Homo sapiens: one gene and its partners. The protein of the gene in region 5 purifies or fractionates together with the protein of the main gene of each other region. This does not show direct contact. Each region holds a gene or a part of one and is shown on either strand. Other genes may lie near its edges. The genes, in order: HACD3, SLC25A12, CTDSP2, SLC2A12 and CHCHD6.

Region 1 (3,963 bases), on a different chromosome or scaffold from region 5:
TGCTGCAGCTTCTACAATCAGCACTTGTAGCTTCACCTTGCACTTTTATGTTATGGAGCCTTTCCTTAAGCCTCATGAATCAACTTCTGCTAGCTTCAAATTTCTCTTCTGCAGCTTCCTCACCTCTCAGCCTTCATAGAATTGAAAGAGTTGGGGCCTTGTTCTGGATTAGGCTTTGGCTTAAGAGAATGTCGTGGCTGATTTATATTCTATCCAGACCACTCAAACTTTCTTCATATCAGCAATATGGATATTTTGCTTTCTTATCATTTGGGTGTTCACTGGAATAGCACTTTTAATTTCCTTCAAAAATTGTTTCTTTGCATTCACAACTTGGCTGCTTGGTGCAAGAGGCCTAGCTTTCAGCCTGTCTCAGTTTTGACATGCCTTCCTCACTAAGCTTAATGATTTCTAGCTTTTGATTTAAAGTGAGACATGTGCAACTCTTCACTTTAACACTTAGAAGCCACTGTAGGGCTTGTTTGTTTGTTTTGTTTTTGAGACAGAGTCTCACTCTGCCACTGGAGTGCGGTGGCGTGATCTCAGCTCACCCAACTTCAGCCTCCCAGGTTGAAGTGATTCTCCTGCCTCAGCCTCCTGAGTAGTTAGGATTACAGGCACCCGCCACCACACCTAGCTAATTTTTGTATATTTTTAGTAGAGACGGGGTTTCACCATGTTGGCCAGGCTGGTCTCCTGACCTCAAGTGACACACCCACCACAGCCTCCCAAAGTGCTGGGATTACAGGCATGAGCCATCACACCCGACCCCATTGTAGGGTTATTAACTGGCTTAATTTCAATATTGTTGTGTCTCAGAGGAGAGGCCCAAGGAGAGGGAGAGAGATGGAGGAATGGCCAGTGAGAGCAGTCAGAACACATACATTTATCGATTAAGTTCACCATCTTATATAGGTGCATTTCATTTTGCCATAAAACAATCACAATGGTGGCTGGGCACAGTGGCTCAAACCTGTAATCCCAGCACTTTGGGAGGCCGAGGTGGGCAGGCCACTTGAGCTTAGGAGTTCGAGACCAACCTCGTCTCTACAAAAAATACAAAAACTAGCTGGGCACAGTGGCACATGCCTGCAGTCCCAGCTACTTGGGAAGCAGAGGTGGAAGGATCACTTGAGGCTGGGAGGCGGAGGTTGCGGTGGGCCAAGATCACACCACTGCACTCCAGCCTGGGTGACAGAGTGAGACCCTGTCTCAAAAATAAATAAATAAATAATAAACAATCACAATAGTAACATCAAGGCTAGGCACAGTGGTTCAAGCCTGTAACCTCAGGGATCTGGGAGGCCAAGGCAAGAGGATTGCTTAAGTCCAGGAGTTCAAGACCAGCCTGGCCAACATAATGAGACCCCACCTCTAAAAAAATTAAAAAATTGAAAATTAGCTAGGCAGGTACCTGTAGTCCTACTTGGTAGGCTGAGCCAGGAGGACTGCTCAAACCCAGGAGTTCAAGGCTACGGTGAGCTATGATCACACTGCTGCACTCCAACCTGGGCAACAGAGTGAGACCCTGCCTCAAAAAAAAAAAAAAAGTTAACATCAAAGATCACTGATCACAGATCACCAGAACAGATATAATAATAATGAAAAAATCTGAACTATTCCAAGAATTAACAAAATACAACACAGAGACACTAAATGAACACATGCTGTTGGAAAAATGACGCCAACAGACTTTGTTGCCACAACCTTCAATTTGTCAAAACCGCATTATCTGCAAAGCACAATAAAGCAAAGCACAATAAAACAAGGTATGCCTGTACATGTGCCTGGTCATAATTGCAGTCAAGCATCTTTTCAGACTTATTGGTCATTCTTGTTTCCTTTTACTCTGAAATGTTTATATTATCTGCCCCTTTTTCTATTAGGTAATACGTCTTTTGCCTATTGGTCTGTAGGTGTTCTTTAAATAGTCGTGATATTAGTCATCTCTCAATGATATGCACTGCAAATGTCTTCTTCAAGTTTGTCTTAAATGTGCCAATCTTTGTCTTTAGGGTTTGTGTTTTGTGCATCTTGCTTAACACATTCTCCCCCTTTCCAATATTATAAAGATAGTCTCCTATATTTCTTTTTAGTAGTTTTTCTTTATGCGTTTAGGTCATTAATGCACCTGAAACTGATTTTTGTGTATGGCATAAGGCAGGATCTTATTTTCTTTTTGCCATTTGGATTACCAATTGTCCCAGTACAATTTCCTGAATGGGTCATTCTCTCCTCATTAATTTGTAAGAGCGCCTCTTGTCATACCTTAACTTTTCATATATGAATAGGTCTGCTAATAGGCTCTATTCTTCCATTGCTCTGTGACCATCCCTCTCATCTAAGGTTTAATATCGCAATCATCATAATCACTCACTTGAACTGCACACTAGAATTTGCAAAGCACTTTCAAATCCATTTTCCAATTCAAATCTCAAAATGGTCCTATGAGTTAGGCACTACTGTTCATATCTGTCTGGATGAAGAGCGTCAGGTTCATAAAGGTTAAGTGAATCATGGTCACTAGAGCATAAGTGTAATAAGAACAAGGACCCAATCTCATGTGTTCAGTTAGCACTCTTTCCACCAGACTCTGTTAGGTAAGGACAGGAACAATATCTTTCAAACAGCTCTCAAACACAGCTACGCTCTGTTCTCTGCTCACAACACCCAAAACAAACAAGCACCTTGTAAATAAACCAATGCTTTAACAACTATGTTTCTCGGGACAAACACGTTCATTATGTTCATCGTGAAAGTAAATTCAATCTTGAAAGTAACCCTGCTTTAGCTGGCCTCTTTGCTACCGTTCACCTCAAGCACAGACGATGCCACTGCTGAAGTCTTTATTGTCCACCATTTCTCCTCACATCAGCCGTGTTCTCTCATAGTCACTAGCCCTGCAGCATCCAAGACAGAATAGAGATGTGATGACTGGACAGTTCCCTGTGTCAGGATGGAGGGAGACAGAGCCAATGCCTCCAAACTGGAACTTAACACTTTAAAACTCACACTTACACATAAGCTGTGGGTCATGCTATAGAAAGCAGAGAGTGTTAAAGTGCTGTCCAAGAACCCCACACCTAGCTTAATGATAGACAAGAGTAGGTACTCCATAAACGATTTTTACTGAACAAATAAATGAAGTGCTTCATCCAGAGCCAGAACCACTGGTTTCTTTTCTTTTTTTTTTTTTTTGAGACGGAGTCTCGCTCTGTCCCCCAGGCTGGAGTGCAGTGGCGCAGTCTCGGCTCACTGCAAGCTCCACCTCCCGGGTTCACGCCATTCTCCTGCCTCAGCCTCCTGGTAGCTGGGACTATAGGCGCCCGCCACCACGCCTGGCTAATTTTTTTGTATTTTTAGTAGAGACGAGGTTTCACCGTGTTAGCCAGGATGGTCTCGATCTCCTGACCTCATGATCCGCCCGTCTCGGCCTCCCATAGTGCTGGGATTACAGGCATGAGCCACCACACCCGGCTGCTTTTCTTTCTTTTTTTTTTTTTTAAATAACAAATCTGCACATGTAAAACCACTGGTTTCAACAGGCCCTGCATAGAGCAATCAGTTGAGAAAGAAAAAAAAAAGGCAACCCGTGACACTCCAGAAGCAGGCATAGCACTCACAGCCAGGCCATGTTATTCTCCTATGGGACATAAACAATCTCACAGAATACCAACCTCAGACAAGGTTACTCTGAAATCCTCATAAAATGAGACAAAGGCCATTTCACAATTTTGTTATAAGCACAGACAAATACATAGTGGCTATGCCACTCACGAAATACCAAACACCCTTTGGCCAAATTGAGTGACTGCTACTCCTGTAGCAATTACAGTTTTGTTCTTATACTAGTCTCCCTGCCCTACAGGTAAGATTTATTCAGATACCCAACCACGAAACTCCCATATTTTCTTACAGGATCTTATCTGAAGTGAAACCCAACCTCCTTAACCCTCCCCTCCC
Region 2 (4,698 bases), on a different chromosome or scaffold from region 5:
CCCCACTCAAAAACAAAAAACAAATCCATACAGAATCACAGTATATTTTTTTCCCATAGAATTTTTAAAGCTAGAAAGACCTCAATTCCCATTCCTTTATGTCCCACTGAGTCCCACATGAGAAGCTGAAACTCAGGAAGGCCAGATGATTAGCCTAAGGGTACAAGAACCAGATAAATGCAGGGCTGGGAATTAACTCCGTATTCCTAGGCAGTACTCAGATACCTAGGCAGTATTCTTTTCACTACATCATGCAGCATTTCAACTCATTTCTTCCGCATCTACTTAGTCTAGAACATAAAATTAACTATATCACATGAACTCTTCACAAAACAATTGACTATAATCACATGGTATGGTGAATACCGATATATTTTTGGCTATTTTCAAGAATGCCTGCAAGGAATAAAGGTTTCAAGTCATAAATGGACCATTTCTGTTATTATAATTACTTCTGTTCTGGAAAAAAATACTTCCCTTATCAGATATTATGACCTTTAAGATTCCCATTTTCACAAATTATTTTTCATAAACTACACATATGTATGCTCAACTACGCAGCGTCTTACCCAACAATAGCTTAAGCAAACCACATATCTCAAATAAAAATGTCATCTATTCCAGGCTCATCAGCATATGTTAGAATCTGTTCCTAAAATAGACTCATAGACTTTTGGAATGGGAAGGAACCTTGGAGATCACCTCTCATTTCACAGAGGAAAATAATACACAGCAGGGACCTGCCCAAGGTCAAAGTGTCTTCATAAGAACCCAGGTCCAGAATAGAAAGTTCTCAAAAGATTTCAGAGAGAAATGCAATATTTGGTGAAACACCTTAGCTTGCCTCCCTTTACATCTACTTTTTTTTTTTTTTGAGACAGTGTCTCTCTGTCCCCAGGCTGGAGTGCAGTGGCACGATCTCGACTCACTGCAAGCTCCGCTTCCCGGGTTAACGCCATTCTCCTGCCTCAGCCTCCCGAGTAGCTGGGACTACAGGCGCCCACCACCACGCCCGGCTAATTTTTTGTATTTTTAGTAGAGACGGGGTTTCACCGTGTTAGCCAGGATGGTCTCGATCTCCTGACCTCATGGTCCACCCGCCTCGGCCTCCCAAAATACTGGAATTACAGGCGTGAGCCACCGCGCCCGGCCTACATCTACTTCTTAAGTACAATTTCCTGCATAGGAAACTTTTGAAATTTAAGAAAAGAAAGCAAAACAAAAAACTAAGCCAACCTTTTTTTTTTCTTTTTTCTTTTCTTTTTAAGTCTACAGCCAAGTCACTGATTCTAAAAGCTTAGAAGTTAAGGTAGACCATTGCAAGAATCTTAAGAGGTAACATTTTGGGGTAAAATCCCCAAGGCTTAAGGATACAATGTAAGTAAGACACACAAATTAAGAATAGCTATAATATTCTTATCTCTGTAACAAATTACATGGAGGATAGCTCATAAGTAGGAAAACTTTGTAAACATGCAACTTTCAAGGAAGAGAATTTTAGTCATCATACCTATTAACTATACAAGAATGCCAATACATTTTGAAATTTTATCTTGGTCTCTGTGCTTAAGCTGGAAATTTTTTTTCAAAATATATATCTTAAGTCATGTAAAAAAAAAAGCAGTAACTTGAGGAAAACCTTTTATCGACCCTTAATTAAAAGAAGGCCTTAAATCAAACCTTATTAAGAGAAGTATAAGCTATATTGTCCGGTCATGTTTGAAAGAATACATGAAAACTGAACATTCCTCAAAGTTAAGGCATGAATAGGACTAAGGACATGTACGTTTTTTGTTTTTGCAATGAAAGGCACACTATGCAAGCCAATTTACCTGTAGAAATATGTTTCTTAACTCATGAGGATCCCCTCGCTTAGTTGTCTGCACCTGTAAGCAAAAAAGAAAAAAAAGCCAGTTAATGCTTCACTAGAGACCACACAATCTCTTCAGATTAGAGGTCACATGGCTAACAATCAATGCTCCTATCTTTTATCATTTAGTTTAAAACAAACTAAAAGCCCTAATTGCTGATAAGAACTGTCAAACTGGATAACTGTGACTAGAGGGCAGAAAAACAGGTGCGAATAGCCTAAGATACAGCAAAGCTATCGGACAGTGCTTCCTCTGGACTGGAAAGGGAAGGCAATGAGGATCTTTTACTTTATTCCACATCTACTAGCAACACAGTAGTAACCACCCACCTTCAAATCAAGAAGCTAACAAGAGTAGATCAACAGGAAAGTTAAATCACCCAAATTAATCACTTGGCCTAGCAGCCTTTCTCCATAAAAAGCAAACCCAACATGTAATTATCTCCGCGTCCCTCTCCCCATCCAACCTAAAATATGAGAGCTGCCACAAATACAAATACTTTCCATACCCTGCAATCTGCAACGCAAAAGCCAACCACTGCCCTCGGCCTTATTGAGGCCCCAAATTACTCAATACTTACTCCCTCCCCCACCGCAATTCACTGATACCCTAGGTATCCCCAGCTTTACTTGCCACTTCCTCCCACACCCTTTCTGATGCCCTCCAACTCCGGACTCACAATCCCATGCACCTAGGACAGGACATTACTCTTCCTTCACTGACCCGTGTTACCGTACAAGCCCCTTCAACTCACAATCCCTCCTCCTTCCCCTCCCCCAGCCGGGCATCCCCTCCTCCGGTCCAAGCCCCGCACAGCTCTCCCCGCAGCAAGCCGGAGCCCCAGGACAAGCTATCTAAGACCTAGACAATGAATAAAATGGGAAGCAGTGGGGGGCTGCAGGCAGGGCGCTCGGAATGTCTCTTATGCAATAAAAGCAGCAGCAGAGAGTTGGAGTCACCTTGACCGCCATGCTGTGCTCGGAAGCCGGGGACGAGCGAGTGAGCGAGCAGGGCCGAGCTGTCAGGGCGCGCGCGCGCCGTCTTCCCGGCCGCGCCCGCCCTCCCTCTCGCCGGCGCCGCGCGCGTCCCTATGCAAATGAACTCGGGGCGCGCCGCGTGCGGAAAGGGGCCCGGCGTCCCGGCCAGAAAGGCAGCTGGTCCAGGGCCGGCCGGCCGGGCGGAGGAGGGGGACGCGCCTCCCACGGGGAAAACAAGCGCGACCCATGGGATCCCGACGCGCCGCGTGGTTGCCACAGCTAGGTCGCCGCCAGGAAAGCCCCAGGTTTCCTAAGGCCTCTTAGTGGGTGTGGCTTTGGGCACCGACCAGCCAAAGTCGTTTTCCCCGAGGCTTAAAGGAACATTTGGGGCCTATACTGAGCAAGGTTCCGACGGATCAAAGAGCACTTCCCATTAATAACAATGAATTAATGACAACTGATGGCAAATACCGACAAAACAAGATTGGGAACCACTCACTCTAGGGAAAACCTACGTAAACATAATTTGAGAAATATGCTCCTAAATTGGCATGGGACGAATACGCTGAATTTATTTTTGCTTTGCGTGCTATTACAACGGTTTATTAGTAGACTCGCTCCACTTTCCTAATCACCCAAATCCTGTGTGCAATGAGAAAAAAAACTCTATGTGTCTTTGACAGGGCTGGCAATGAATCGCTTGCCCATACATGAACAGAAAGTAATTCTCCATTCGATTTCTAGCCCTACCTAAGAAGTAGAAGAAGCAGTAACTCTATCTTGAACCAAAACAATGTTTCTAAACCCGTCTTGCCAATATCACTGTATTAGGCTACATATTGATTCAAACATGTATGGGCATCCATTATATGCCTGACATGGTCCTGCTTGTAAAAAACGCAAATAACCTATAGCCCCCACCCTCTAGGGGCTTACAGATGGTCAATGCTTCTCCACAACCCCAATCACATGTGTATTGTGTGTATGTGTGTCTGTGTGTGTGTGTGTTGAGACTGAGTCTCGCTCTGTCGCCCAGGCTGGAGTGCAGTGGCACCATCTTGACTCACTGCAACGTCCACCTCCCAGGTTCAAGAGATTCTCTTGCCTTGGCCTCCCGAGTAGCTGGGATTACAGGCACCCGCCGCAATGCCCAGTTAATTTTTTGTATTTTTAGTAGAGACAGGGTTTCACTATGTTGGCCAGGTTTGTCTCAAACTTCTGACCTCTGGTGATCCGCCCACCTCGGCTTCCCAAAGTGCTGGGATTACAGGCGTGAGCCACCGCGCCCGACCCTGTGTATGTTTTCATTTTTAATTTTTTGAGACGGAGTCTCGCTCTATCGCCCAGGCTGGAGTGCAGTGGCGCCATCTTGGCTCACTGCAACCTCTGCCTCCTGGGTTCAAGCAATTCTCCTGCCTCAGCCTCCCAAGTAGCTGGGATTACAGGTGCACGCCACCATGCCTGGCTAATTTTGTATTTTTAGTAGCTATGGGGTTTCGCCCAAGCCACTTATAATTAGACACTAGATAAATGACACACTTTAGGGCTTCTCTATACTGTACAACTATTCTCCCTATATGAACATTTGCTGTCATTGAAATAAATTCTCGTTTTGGTGGAAATGGAAGAGAGGGGTATCAAAAATCAGAAGAAATAGTTGTACTCCTGCAGTTATGTCTTTTCCTGAACTGTCTTCCTCACAGCCTGACTCTAAATCCTATAAATTATGCAGTGGAGATGATGGTGATCTTATTTTTGGACCACAGCCTTCTTTATTCCCTTGGTGAAGCAATAACAAACAGTTTTCTTTTCAGTGAATTTTGGAAGGAATTCATGGAATGAGCTGCTCT
Region 3 (3,963 bases), on a different chromosome or scaffold from region 5:
GGAGACAGCTGGGTGGGATATGGGGCTGAAACTCTTTTTTTAAGGTGAGAAAGCCTTGAGTGAAAGATACCAATAAAAAGGGGAGGCTGGAGTTATAGAAAAGGGATCAACTGACAGAACCCAAGCCCTGAGATGGGTGGAGGACCCCAGTACAGGTGAGGCAGAAGGCAGACCCCCCACCCTCTGGGCTGGGTGTGGTCTGGCTGGCAGCTCACCTGGTGAGTGGTCCCCTCAATCTCTATAGGCACTATGAAGTCAGCATTGTTGATTGGCTGGAAGGCAGAAAAGTTAATGCTGTCAGCATGGTGGCAAAGAAACATGAGGCCCCCACCATACCCCTAGGTGGGTGGGGAGAAACAGGTCTTAAAGACTCCTGGAAGTGCCTCTGGCCACCTCATTAAGGGGTTCTCACCCTAGTTCAAGATGTGATACCCCATTCTGGTTTTCCCTACTCCTTAGCACCTCCACTCTGACAAATTCTACCTGGGCTGAGAGTTTTGGGGCCTGAGTTTCCTGAGGAGACAAGCAGGGGCAAGGGCCAAAGGTGATCCAACCACTCTTTTAGGCCTGCCCTGTACAGAGCCCTCGTGGCTGGCTTTCTGTGCTATGTGGCTCGGGGGCAGATGCAGCCTGTTGGGAGTGACTGGAGATAGCAGCCCTGGTGGAACACACAGGGTTCCTACTCAACATTCTTCAGTGGGGCCTCTAGATACCTGTGACACAGGGTGGCCAAAATGCCAGAGGCCTGGCCTTTTCCCTTCTAATCACTCTTCTTTCCTCACCTTTAGGCTGCCTTACACATCTGTTGCCAGATTCACAAGAAGGCCCAAGATAAAGGTAGGAAGGGTTCCAGACATTGAGTTACCTTAAAGGAGCTATGCACAAGGGTTTCATCGAGGTCAATGACCACACAGATCCTTCCTTGATCTTCCTCTGTCACCTCTGGGAGCAGGCAGGTCCCTGGGATCTAAAACCAAGCCAGGTTGCTGAGATCTGCCTACCAAGAAAGCCCAATTGTACCCCTTGGCATAATTATGGGAAGAGCTGGGTTGTTTGTGGAGACACAATCACCAACCCAGGATAGGCACCACTTAAAGGCCAGGAAGAAAGGAGGTGGAGTTGTTTCCTTGGTTTCAGCCTCCCAGTGGGACTATTAAGTGATCTGGACATTGGAGGTGGTGGCCAGGGCAGGTGTGGGATGGACAGCAGCTGTGGGAAGAGGGCATGGAGCACCAGCTGTCCCCTAAAATCTAATGCCTTGCACATAGCAGGCCCTCAACAAGTATGGGGAACAAATGGCTTCCCAGGTCAGGGAGGTGGCTGGCTAGGCACCAAGGACTATGCACATCACCCTGCCCGTGGAGCTGGCAGGGATCACAGGATCCTGGCTTCTGAGTACTTACCAGGCCAGAGTCACGTACCTGGTAGAACTGGTACTGGAGACACTGGAGCAGATCCGACTGAGGAAGAGAAGGAGGTGGTCAGTGCCATCTCACTGCCTTTCCCACCCCATCCAAACCCACTGCTTCTGTCTTAAGCCTGGAGGGCAACTTTCTCCCCCAGACCCAGCCACCTGGAAGCTCCTACCATGTCAAAAGTGACTTTTCCTAGGAGTGGGGCAGGAAAAGGGAAAGGCTAGAGCTTCCTTTCCACATTAGGCCTGATGAAGGATGGAGAAGACAAGTGTCCCTGTTCTCGGCTGCCACTGCCTCTCAACTGGACAAAGTGAGGAACAGGGAACTCAAGTAACTGATTCAGGGACACAGAGTCAGAGGCAGAACCAAAGTCTGAATTCCTCACAGTGGCAAACTCTCGCTAAGTCCTTAAACTCAGGCTTCTCCTTGAGAACATGTTGTTTTCCATGCCCTCCTTAGGGGTTATGTGGGGGAACAAGCCCTATAAAACATCAAGTAAGCCACATTGTAGGTACCCAAAATGTGAGGGGAGGGAGTGCAGAGAGATCAGCAAGCCCCCCACCCCAATTTTTGCTAATACAAATGTTATGACCGCCGGGCGCAGTGGCTCATGCCTGTAATCCCAGCACTTTGGGAGGCCGAGGCGCGCGGATCACCTGAGGTCAGGAGTTCGAGACCAGCCTGATCAACATGGAGAAACTCCGTCTCTACTAAAAATACAAAATTAGCCGGTCGTGGTGGCACATGCCTGTAATCCCAGCTACTCGGGAGACTGAGGCAGGAGAATCGCTTGAACCCGGGAGGCGGAGGTTGCGGTGAGCCAAGATCGCACGCCATTGCACTCCAGCCTGAGCAACAAGAGCGAAACTCCATCTCAAAAAAAAAAAAAAAAAAGTTATGGTTTTAAGTGTTCTTAATGAAAACTTTGAAGAAAAATTAAAATCCTAGCACTTAGATAAACAATGTGGCATTCAGTGTACTGCCTTCAAATCTGTGTCCGCAGACTTTTTCCAGAATGCTATACAATTACACACTCTGCCTTTTTACTTAATGTTGCAACTCAATACTTCTCCATGTTATTGAGAACTCTGTAAAAGCTAATCACTCAGTAATACTGTCATGTTGTATTTTATTTAACCATTTCCCCTACTGCAAAATGCAGTGATTTTTCACTGATGTATGTCTTCAGCCTGGTCTTGAGAAAAAGGAAGGACAACCAGACCTCAGTGTTTCAGAGAAGTACCACTGGCTTTTGGGGCAGAATAATTTTTGTTGGTCGGGGCTGGCCCCACCTGTGAAATACTAGACATATAAAAAATACCCACAAAATCCCAAATGCCTTGCATGAGTATGGGAGAGAACTGCTGACAGGAGTTATTAACAGCATGGTAGAGTTTCAATTCCTTGGTTCCCTGTAACTCAGGTAACTTGGAAGTTAGCTTTGCATAATTGAGAACAACAACACAGGCTTTAGAGCCAGAGAAATCTAAGTTCAAATCCTGACACTACTATTTATTAACCATGAACTCTTCAGGTGCTACATAAACCCTCTACATAAATCCATATCTGCAAAGTGTGAATCCTGTGATCTCCTTACAGGGCTGCTGGCTGGATCACATGAGACAATATATGCAAAGCACCTTGCCTAGTTCCTGGAACCTGGAAGGATCAGGATCACAGGGGCCCTCAGAAACCACAGTGACATGTGAATGGCCCACACCGCAAAAGGGAAGGAACAGAAAGGAAATACACTACTTATGGAAGGATGGAGGAAGGGCCCCCTCTCAGCCAGAAATCTTTGCAACTTCAGGCAAAGCTTCCTTGTCCGGTTGCCATCGTCTGCAGGGATCTCCCATTAACAGTCCCTTCATTGCTGGCATCTTACCACCCCAACCCACCTACCTTAGCAATGGTGTTTGCTTCCTCCTTATACGCAGCGAGCTCAGTGGAGGAACTTGACTGGCCAACATGCTGGGCGCGAAAACAGCAGAAAAGGGCCTTGAAGATGTTACGTCCACGAGGCTTCTTAGGAGAGGACTTGGAGACCAGGCCTAGGGTGGAGAGAATGACAGAGGCTTTAGCTCTAGGGACATCAGTTTCTGTCCACAGATACTACCATGCCCATAGCTCTTCTAGTTTGTAAACTCTACTAGGGCACACAGTATACGGCTGGTGAACAACCACATACAGTTAACAGTCAAACATACATGTTTATTCCAGCCTTTTCTCTTTAAAGCAGGAATGTCAGGAATCCCCACTCTCTGGCTTGGGAGACCTGAGCCACAGAGCATTTGTTTTTCATTCCATCGGGGAAGATGGGGCCAGGCATAGAATCAAGGTGTTCTGCTGCTCCAGCTGCAGCACACTCAAAATTAATTCACGAAGACAAAAATCCTCCCTAACGTCAATTCCCAGGAAGACCATCGGTTCCAGACAACGGAGAAACCTGGTCCCCTTTGAGTTAGTGGAGCTGTAGTTCTGTTTAGCATCAGCTTCCCTAGATACTGGCTTAGTGGAGGCAGAACGGAGCCCAATTTGCCTAAAAACT
Region 4 (3,963 bases), on a different chromosome or scaffold from region 5:
CAGATGACCAATGTTATCCTTGTCTTCCTTCTAGCACTTATGTTCATGAGGTACTATAGCAGTAGGATGCTCTGACTGGTCAAAAGCAATACATTAAAGAATAAAGTACTTACTTGGTCCTAGACCAATTGAAAAAGCAGCAACATAAACAAGCAAGCTGGCTAAGGACAGCCATTTCAAAAAAGCTGGGACGTCCCCAGGGTCTGTGACTATCTGGTATTCAGTGTGGCTTAATCCAGCATTTAGCAAGGATGCTGAGGTCGTCTCCCCTCTCTTATCCACATCATTTCTCAGGGGCATGAGTGAGCTTCTGCTATGGGAAGAAATCCCTTTGAAGTGGTCTCTGAGAGTATTGTTGTTGGTTGACAGGTTTCCTGGTCCATAAATCACAGACTCATCCAAGGACTGGTTGATAGAATTGTGGCTTCTGCAGATATGGGTGAAGTTCATGTGGATGTTGAGATTTACGATGCCCATGGTCACCAACGAAGCTGCCATCACAGAGGAGCCAATGCAGAGGAATGTTTTGCTGCCGACATGGTCTACAAGAAGAGTGGCAGGGATGGTGCTAATGACCTTGACGACTCCAACCCCAGTGGAGGCGAGGCTAGCTGCCTCATTGCTTTGAAATCCAACTGACTTCAAAACAGTTGATGCATAGAACAATATGTTTGGTTGGCCAGTGATTTGTACAAAAAATACTAGTGTTAGTCCTATCATTATTCGGGTCCGCATGTTGTCTTTTGAACGAAACAGATCCCAAAAACTGTACTGATATTCATCTTTCAGGGAGGATTTGATCACAGTGAGTTCCTCAGTTGTATCTGAGAGTGCTCTTAACCTTCCAAGAACCTTGCTAGCAGCTCCCTCTTGTCCTTTCATCACCAGAAACCGAGGGCTTGGAGGAAGAAAATACATTGCAATTGCTTGCAAAACTCCCAAGGGAATCACAAGACCAAACATGTACTTCCAGCCATGGAAAACATTGGCAAATGCGTAATTTGAAATATAGGCAGAAAGAATGCCGATGACAATCATCAGCTCATTCAGTGACACAAGAAGGCCTCTTCTGTGTTGAGGAGCAATCTCTGCGATGTAAACACAAGTGGCAATGGAAGAGAGGGAGATGGAGACCCCTATGGCAATGCGTCCCACTATAAGAACCGTGTAGGATAAACTGAGGATCAAGACTAAGCTTCCGAGTCCAAGCAGGCAGGATGACAAGATGATTGCTGTCCTTCTTCCATATCTGTCTATCAGGACCCCTCCGGTGAGTGAGGCAAGGAGGGCTCCAATGACGAGGGAGCTCACAACCATTTCCTGCTCATGGCAGCTCAGGGCTAATAAGGTTTTGATCTGAAGAAGAGCCCCAGAGATGATCCCAAGTTCATAACCCACCAGGAGGCCACTGACAGCAGCAGTGACAGATGACAGGAAGGTAAACATGCCGCAGCCTGCAAGCAGAGAGAAGAGACAGGGAGGTCAGTTCTCAGTTGAGATTTTAAACATTTTGTATTTGAGCGGAGATTTAACCTTGTAGAAGTCTTTCATAGCACTGGGTTTAAACGAACACACAATTATGATAAAATAATACACTAACCAAAAAATGATTTGATATAGAAGGAGAAATCATTTTTCTTTCTTTTTTGGGAGGATAGGCATGGAGACATGTAGGAAGTCCAGTTTCCTTCTATTTATGATGTTGATGTTTTTGGTTTAGATCAGACAGTGATGTTGAGATAAGCAGATGACACATGATGAAGACTGAACAAACAAGAACATCATTTGGTTCATGACTTGGCAGTGGATCAGAAATTCAAAGAGCCTGACTCTTTGGTCCCATTCCAGTTCTCTAAAGGCAAATCTTTGAGGGCAGGAGAGAGAGGATAGGAGCCTCTAGAAGTGCTACAGCCTCCTTGCTGGATAGCCTGGGTCAAAATGAAACACAGCCTCCAGGAAACTTGCCCTCTTATCTCCTGGGCCACAGTCGTGCTGCAAATGGCCTCTGCTGAACACATGAGGGTGTTGGGGCAGAGGGTGGAGGTGGGAGTGGGCAGTGTGTGAATGCCTTAACAAAGTCAAGGTTTTGCTAAACAGAAGGAAGGAAGAAATGTATGTAGTGTAAGGAACCAGCAATATCCCTTACTCATTCTGAGTAAGGAGAAAGGGGGATGGAACACAGGCAGAACAAGGAGAATTTACCTTTATATTGTTCTTTCGTTAATGTTCAAATCCAAGGAAAAATGTCAAAAAGTTAGTAACTATTAATTTTTGGTGGTAGGAACACAGATGTTTGTTATATGTTTGCAACTTGTCAAAATAGAAATAAAACAAAACAAAAAAGCAACAGAGGGAAGAGTATTTCAGGCCCAGGAGAAAGTAATTTCCAAGGCCTTAGGACAGGAAAGTTCTCATTATGTTTTAGGAACTGTCAGATGGCCAACATATAACATGTGGGGCACATTGTGAGCCTGGAGCGGTAGGACGGAAAGGGCTTAAAATGAATTTGGATAAGTACAGAGGGGGCACTTCAAGTAGGGCCTTGTCGGTCACAGTGATGACTTTTCATTGTGTTCCAAGTATAATGGAGCCAACACCCACTGAGAGGTGTAGAGGGCATTGACGCTATAGGTTTCTTATTTATAAAGTCCACCTTCACTGCTATGTAGAGATTAGTTCTTCAAAATGCAAGACTGGCAAGACTGGTAGCAGGGAGGAGTTTGTTGCCTTGGTTTGGACAAGAGATAATGGTAGCTTAGACTTGGGTGTTAAGAGTGGAACTGGAGATAAGTAGGCAGATTCAAGACTTATTTTGGAGCTAAAAACCACTACACTTGTTCAGGGCTGGATGTGGTGGCTCACGCCTGTAATCCCAGCACTTTGGGAGGCTGAGGTGGGTGGATCTCCTGAGGTCAGGTGTTCAAGACCAGCCTGGCCAACATGGCAAAACCCCATCACTATTAAAAGTACAAAAATAGCTGGGCATGATGGTTCATGCCTTGTAGTCCCAGCTACTCAGGAGGCTGAGGCAGGAGAATCACTTGAACCCAGGAGGCAGAGGTTGCAGTGAGCTGAGATCATGCCACTGCACTCCACCCCGGGCAACAGAGCAAGACTCCATCTCACAAAAAAACAAAAAACAAAAAACAAACAACAAACAAAAAAAACATTACACTTGTTCAAGAATTGGAGATGGGGGATAAAAAATGGGTCAGAACCCAGGATGGCTCTGTGGCTTGAGCAGGTGGGTGGGTGATTTTACAATATTTGATATACTCAATACAGTACTATATGGGGCCAACACCCATTGAGAGATGTAGAGGGCATTGTACTATATACTGTGTAGCGCAACATACCAACATAGGGAAGATTAGGAATAGAACTGGTTGTGAGTGGTGATAAGAGGAGGGGCAAAAATCAAAAGTTTCATTTTGGACTTAGTAAAATGGTTTATTTATTTTATCTGTAAGACATTCAGGTAAAAATGTTAAGTAGGGGATTGGGTATACAGATTTGGAGCTTAAAGATAGGTCAAGCCTGGACATATGTATTTGGAAGCCAGCAGCACACATTTGGTATTTAAAGCCACAGGAATGGGTGAGATCACTTAGGAAGATAAAATAGGGGAAAAGGAAAAGCATGATCAAGACTGGGACCTAGGCAATGCCAATATTTAGAAGACTAGTGCCAGCAAAGGAGATGGAGAAGAATCAGAACTGAGGTGTAAGTCAAATGTTAGAAATGTGATTACACACACGGTTTTCATAGGCTGAGCTAAGGCTGCCTTTTCGGGGTTGGGGGAGGGTATAGTTAAAAATGCTATTCAGCTCTAGTGAAATAAGCAGGTCAAATAAAGGTGATCTAAAGCTCTACCACAAATACTCAAGGTATTTTCCATCTCCAGGATCCTAGTAGGCTATGGGAATTGGCAGCCCCAAAAATAAGGGGAAAAAAGCACTGAAT
Region 5 (3,963 bases):
TTGGGTCTCACAATGTGGTCCAGGCTGGAGTGCAGTGGTGCAATCATAACTCACTGTAAACTCCAACTTCTGGGCTCAAGCAATCCTCCCACCTCAGCCTCTTGAGCAGCTGGGACTACAGGCATGTGTTACTACCCCCCAGTTAACGTTTTTAATTTTTTTGTAGAGACAGGGTCTCACTATGTTGCCCAGACTGGGCTCAAACTCCTGACTTCAAGCAATCCTCCTGCTTTAGCCTCCTAAATTCACTGGGATTACAGGATTGAGCCACCACACCTGGCCAGGTGAGTTATTCTTGCTAAGACCGATTAGGGAGAGTAAATCTTAGAATGTGGGTCTTAACCCATGGCTATGCAACAGACCCAACATGGCTGAACTACTAGAGGGCAAACGCCCAACCATGGCTGACACTGGGCCCCCTAAGCTGACCCACTGGGTCCTCTGACCATACTGAGGGCAATTTCCTCAAGGATGCTGAAGAGGTCAATCAGTAACAACTACTGTGAGCATCCACTGAGAACTCTGTAGGCCAGGTGCTGTGCTCATGTGCATGATATATATAAACATATTTAACCATGACAAGATCCCAATTAAAGAAGTACTCTTCTTAGCCCTTCTTAGATGCAGTGATATTTCAAGTTCACATAACTAGTAAGTTGCAGGATCAAGATGCCACCCTGTGCTCCACTGGGGCCTCTGTGCCTTAACCACTTTGCTAAAACTTCTCCGGCGACAGGAAGCAGGTCCCATGACAGAGGTGTGGCCAGCTCTTGGGGTCGTGGCCTGTGCTCACAAAGTTACCAACATCCTGGAGCCAGTTCATCTGGACAACCACAGTTAGCACTGGGAGGGCTCCACTTCCTCATCTCTCTAAAAACATGCCTGCATGTGCACACACATGCAGAAGTTCCAGCCACTCAACTGTTTAGTCCTAGCTTTTTTAAATGATTTTTTTTTTTTTTTTTTTTTTTTTTTTAGAGACAGGGTCACCAAGGCTGGAGTTCAGTGGTGCAATCACAGCTCCCTGCAGCCTCAGCTTCCTGAACTCAAGTGATTCTTCCACCTCAGCCTCCCGAGTAACTGGGACTACACAGGCACACACCACCACCCCCAGCTAATTTTTTATCTTTTAGAGACAGGGTCTTGCTATGTTGCCCAGGCTGGTCTCAAACTCCTGGCCTCAAGCAACCCTCCTGCCTTGGCCTCTCAAACTGCTGGGCATGAGGAACATTAACAATCAATTCCCCTATGCCCCTTTTGGTGTTTCTACATCTTTAAACTAGGACCAGTGATACCTATACCATAGGGTTGTCCTTCAATGCAACTGAGATTAATTATGTGAGACAAAGCCTCCAGGGCTTCAGGCAAGGAGAGGGGTACCCAGTGAGGAAAGAGGCTTTTAGGCGGAGCGCAGTGCCGGGAGCAAGCAGGCTCTCGGGCTCACCTCTTGACACCCTCCTTCATCCCTGAGGGCTGCTGGCCACCACTGCTCCCCGACCTGGGCAGTGTGGATTCTGCAAAGGAAAGAGAAGAAAGGGCCTGTCAGTGGCACCCCAGGGTCCACGAAGTCACAGAGGTCACCCAGAGAGGAATGACCCCCATGAATGAATGTGCCCCTTGGAAGGCAGCATCACAGATGTGTCCCCACAAAGGAGCGTCCACAGGGGCAGACAAGGAACACCCTTGATTCAAGCTGTCTGGAAAGCCAGATGATCCAAGCCACCTCTTATCCCGAAGGGGTCTCTGCACCAGGATGCCCACAACACTGGGTGCAGTGTTCCAAACCCATCCCTACTCTCCTGACAATTATTTGGAATCCAGGTCATCTCCTAAGCACAGGCCAGGAGTGGCTGCGGGAAGGTATTGCTTTGCTTCATGAGGACAACCTCCCGGGTAGAGGTTTTGGCATAGGGAAGGGAAGGGGTGGGGGCTCTTTAAATCTTGTTTCCCTTAGTACCCACCTGAGTCTGCACAATCCTCACTGTGGCAAATGCCCCATATTAAACCTAATTCTACTTAACCACTATCGCCTTTAGTATTATTGGGCTCTTTTTGTTGTTACAGTAGGTCCCTTTTGATCATCACGAATTTCGGGATTTCTGAGCAAATCCAATTCACTCTCCCCACCACTTGCTGATACTGAAGGTTTTGTTACTACCCTGTCCCCAGCCTTTACCCTTCCAAAGCTCTCTGTCAGCCAAAGCTCACCACCTTTCTTGGCCTTCTCCGATGTCCCACACCTCCCTCCACCACAGGGTTCTATGCACCAGCAGCCAGAACCACATAGAGCATAACATAAGAACCAGGCTGTGTGAGGCGCTCAATGAGGGTGTGCGACTCCACCCCAGACCCGTCAGGGATCCTTCGGGGGGCACTTCTGAAAGCATCAGCTGTGACTACTCGCACTTTCAAACCACCTCTCATGGGAGGAGAGCACCTCCCATGCTCCTCAGCAACACACCAGGTTCTCAACTGAGGTGAACTCAGGAGCCTGCTGCGGGGTTTCATCTCCACACTAGTGCTCGCCATGCTTATTTATTTGTCTGAAGAGCTTTACTGAGGTTTAATGTCTGGTATTTTTGCTTTTTATATAATTTTCCATTTTTTAACTACAAAAATAACGGGGCTGCCAATGTAGAGCATGTGGCACTCATCCTCACTGCCCTTTCTGTGTGCCCCTGCCCGCTCCCCGCTCCCTTGGAGTGCACATTGTTGAACATGTGTTTCTTTCAGTATTAGTGACGTGGAGATCCTGTCATGAGTATGGCCATCTGTGCACATTTCCTACTGAGTTGTCTTTCTTAAAGATCTTTAAGAACTCGCTACATATTAAGATTACTAGGACTTTGTCAAATGTTATATTTTCCCTAACTTATCCATTCCTGTTACTTCTTTTCTAAATTGTCTAATTTCTTATATTCACATTTCCTATTTTTTTTAATTTAAGGTTTCTTCGTTTAATATGACGTGTAGAAAATCTATCTTCTATTGTACTTTCATGGCTTCAAGCCATACATTTCAATCTTTTATTTCCTCTGACATTTTTGGGGGGTATAGTATGAGAAGAATTTAATTTTAATTTCTTTTTCTAACTTTGTTCCATCACTAAAATAAAGCAAAAACTGGTTTTAAAAGTACAAAATATCTTAAAATTAGTTAACTTTAAGACAGTCCATTTATGCTGACTCTTCAACATTCAGAAACAAAACTTACACCTATCATTTAAACAGCAAAGTACTTTGTTATAATTAACTCCAAGTGACAAAAGAACCACTGTTCTTGCTTTCTAAACTGCTGGAACTTACCAAACTGAAGCAAATGCTTCTTATTTCTTCTAAAGCTGAAACTGATGTGTAGTATTATATATTATGGCAATTTTCGCTTTTATCATCACTTTCTCCCTCTTTCGAGTTAATCCAGTTTGTTAAAGTGCATTGGGTCAAGTTAGACTCCTCTTAAGCCCTTCTCATCAGTTAGTTAGAGCCAGCGTGGGGAGTAAGTGAGCCCTATTAGTAAAGGACAAGGGCTTCTTGGAGGGTTTTCGGGAATCTCACACATCCCCTACAGTGGTAGATATTCAGAAAGATCTTGGGGTGGGTCCAAATCCAGGTGCTGACTGGCTCCTGGGCAATGCTTCTAGGCCCCCGAGCAGGCTGGGATGCACCCTGTCGCCGGACCTCCGCTCCTGCAATCTGCCCATTCGCAGTGCCCACCCACCACCATTCCTCCTGCCTTTCACAGTCCCTCTTCTCCCGTGAGCCTGGTACAGATTCCAGTGTTGCATCACAACATGACACATAACTCATCAGTCTCCATAACCAGAGCCAGGTGTGCCATGAGAGAGGGTCCCTGCCCACCTATCACTGTGTCTTGGCACAGGGCACAGGACTTGGTTCTGGGTGGCCTTCAGTAAACACTAAGTGGGCAGGATACAGCTCTCATATTCTAAACTCTTTCAACCCA

What was found.
Region 1: the proteins of CHCHD6 (region 5) and HACD3 fractionate together in Homo sapiens (co-fractionation; one large-scale study listed by BioGRID). This does not show direct contact.
Region 2: the proteins of CHCHD6 (region 5) and SLC25A12 fractionate together in Homo sapiens (co-fractionation; one large-scale study listed by BioGRID). This does not show direct contact.
Region 3: the proteins of CHCHD6 (region 5) and CTDSP2 purify together in Homo sapiens (co-immunoprecipitation; one large-scale study listed by IntAct). This does not show direct contact.
Region 4: the proteins of CHCHD6 (region 5) and SLC2A12 purify together in Homo sapiens (co-immunoprecipitation; one large-scale study listed by IntAct). This does not show direct contact.

What each region holds. Positions count from the first base shown.
Region 1 is NC_000015.10:65,533,286-65,537,248, reverse strand, and holds part of HACD3 (very-long-chain (3R)-3-hydroxyacyl-CoA dehydratase 3), read right to left. Parts: intron 1-3,963. UniProt on the Homo sapiens protein: Catalyzes the third of the four reactions of the long-chain fatty acids elongation cycle. This endoplasmic reticulum-bound enzymatic process, allows the addition of two carbons to the chain of long- and very long-chain fatty acids/VLCFAs per cycle.
Region 2 is NC_000002.12:171,891,373-171,896,070, forward strand, and holds the start of SLC25A12 (electrogenic aspartate/glutamate antiporter SLC25A12, mitochondrial), read right to left. Parts: upstream 2,873-4,698; 5' UTR 2,843-2,872; coding exon 2,831-2,842; intron 1,887-2,830; coding exon 1,833-1,886; intron 1-1,832. UniProt on the Homo sapiens protein: Mitochondrial electrogenic aspartate/glutamate antiporter that favors efflux of aspartate and entry of glutamate and proton within the mitochondria as part of the malate-aspartate shuttle.
Region 3 is NC_000012.12:57,826,131-57,830,093, forward strand, and holds part of CTDSP2 (carboxy-terminal domain RNA polymerase II polypeptide A small phosphatase 2), read right to left. Parts: intron 3,467-3,963; coding exon 3,318-3,466; intron 1,461-3,317; coding exon 1,422-1,460; coding exon of another isoform or gene 1,404-1,421; intron 968-1,403; coding exon 866-967; intron 273-865; coding exon 216-272; intron 1-215. UniProt on the Homo sapiens protein: Preferentially catalyzes the dephosphorylation of 'Ser-5' within the tandem 7 residue repeats in the C-terminal domain (CTD) of the largest RNA polymerase II subunit POLR2A.
Region 4 is NC_000006.12:134,028,268-134,032,230, forward strand, and holds part of SLC2A12 (solute carrier family 2, facilitated glucose transporter member 12), read right to left. Parts: intron 1,455-3,963; coding exon 114-1,454; intron 1-113. UniProt on the Homo sapiens protein: Insulin-independent facilitative glucose transporter.
Region 5 is NC_000003.12:126,728,112-126,732,074, reverse strand, and holds part of CHCHD6 (MICOS complex subunit MIC25), read right to left. Parts: intron 1,515-3,963; coding exon 1,445-1,514; intron 1-1,444. UniProt on the Homo sapiens protein: Component of the MICOS complex, a large protein complex of the mitochondrial inner membrane that plays crucial roles in the maintenance of crista junctions, inner membrane architecture, and formation of contact sites to the outer membrane.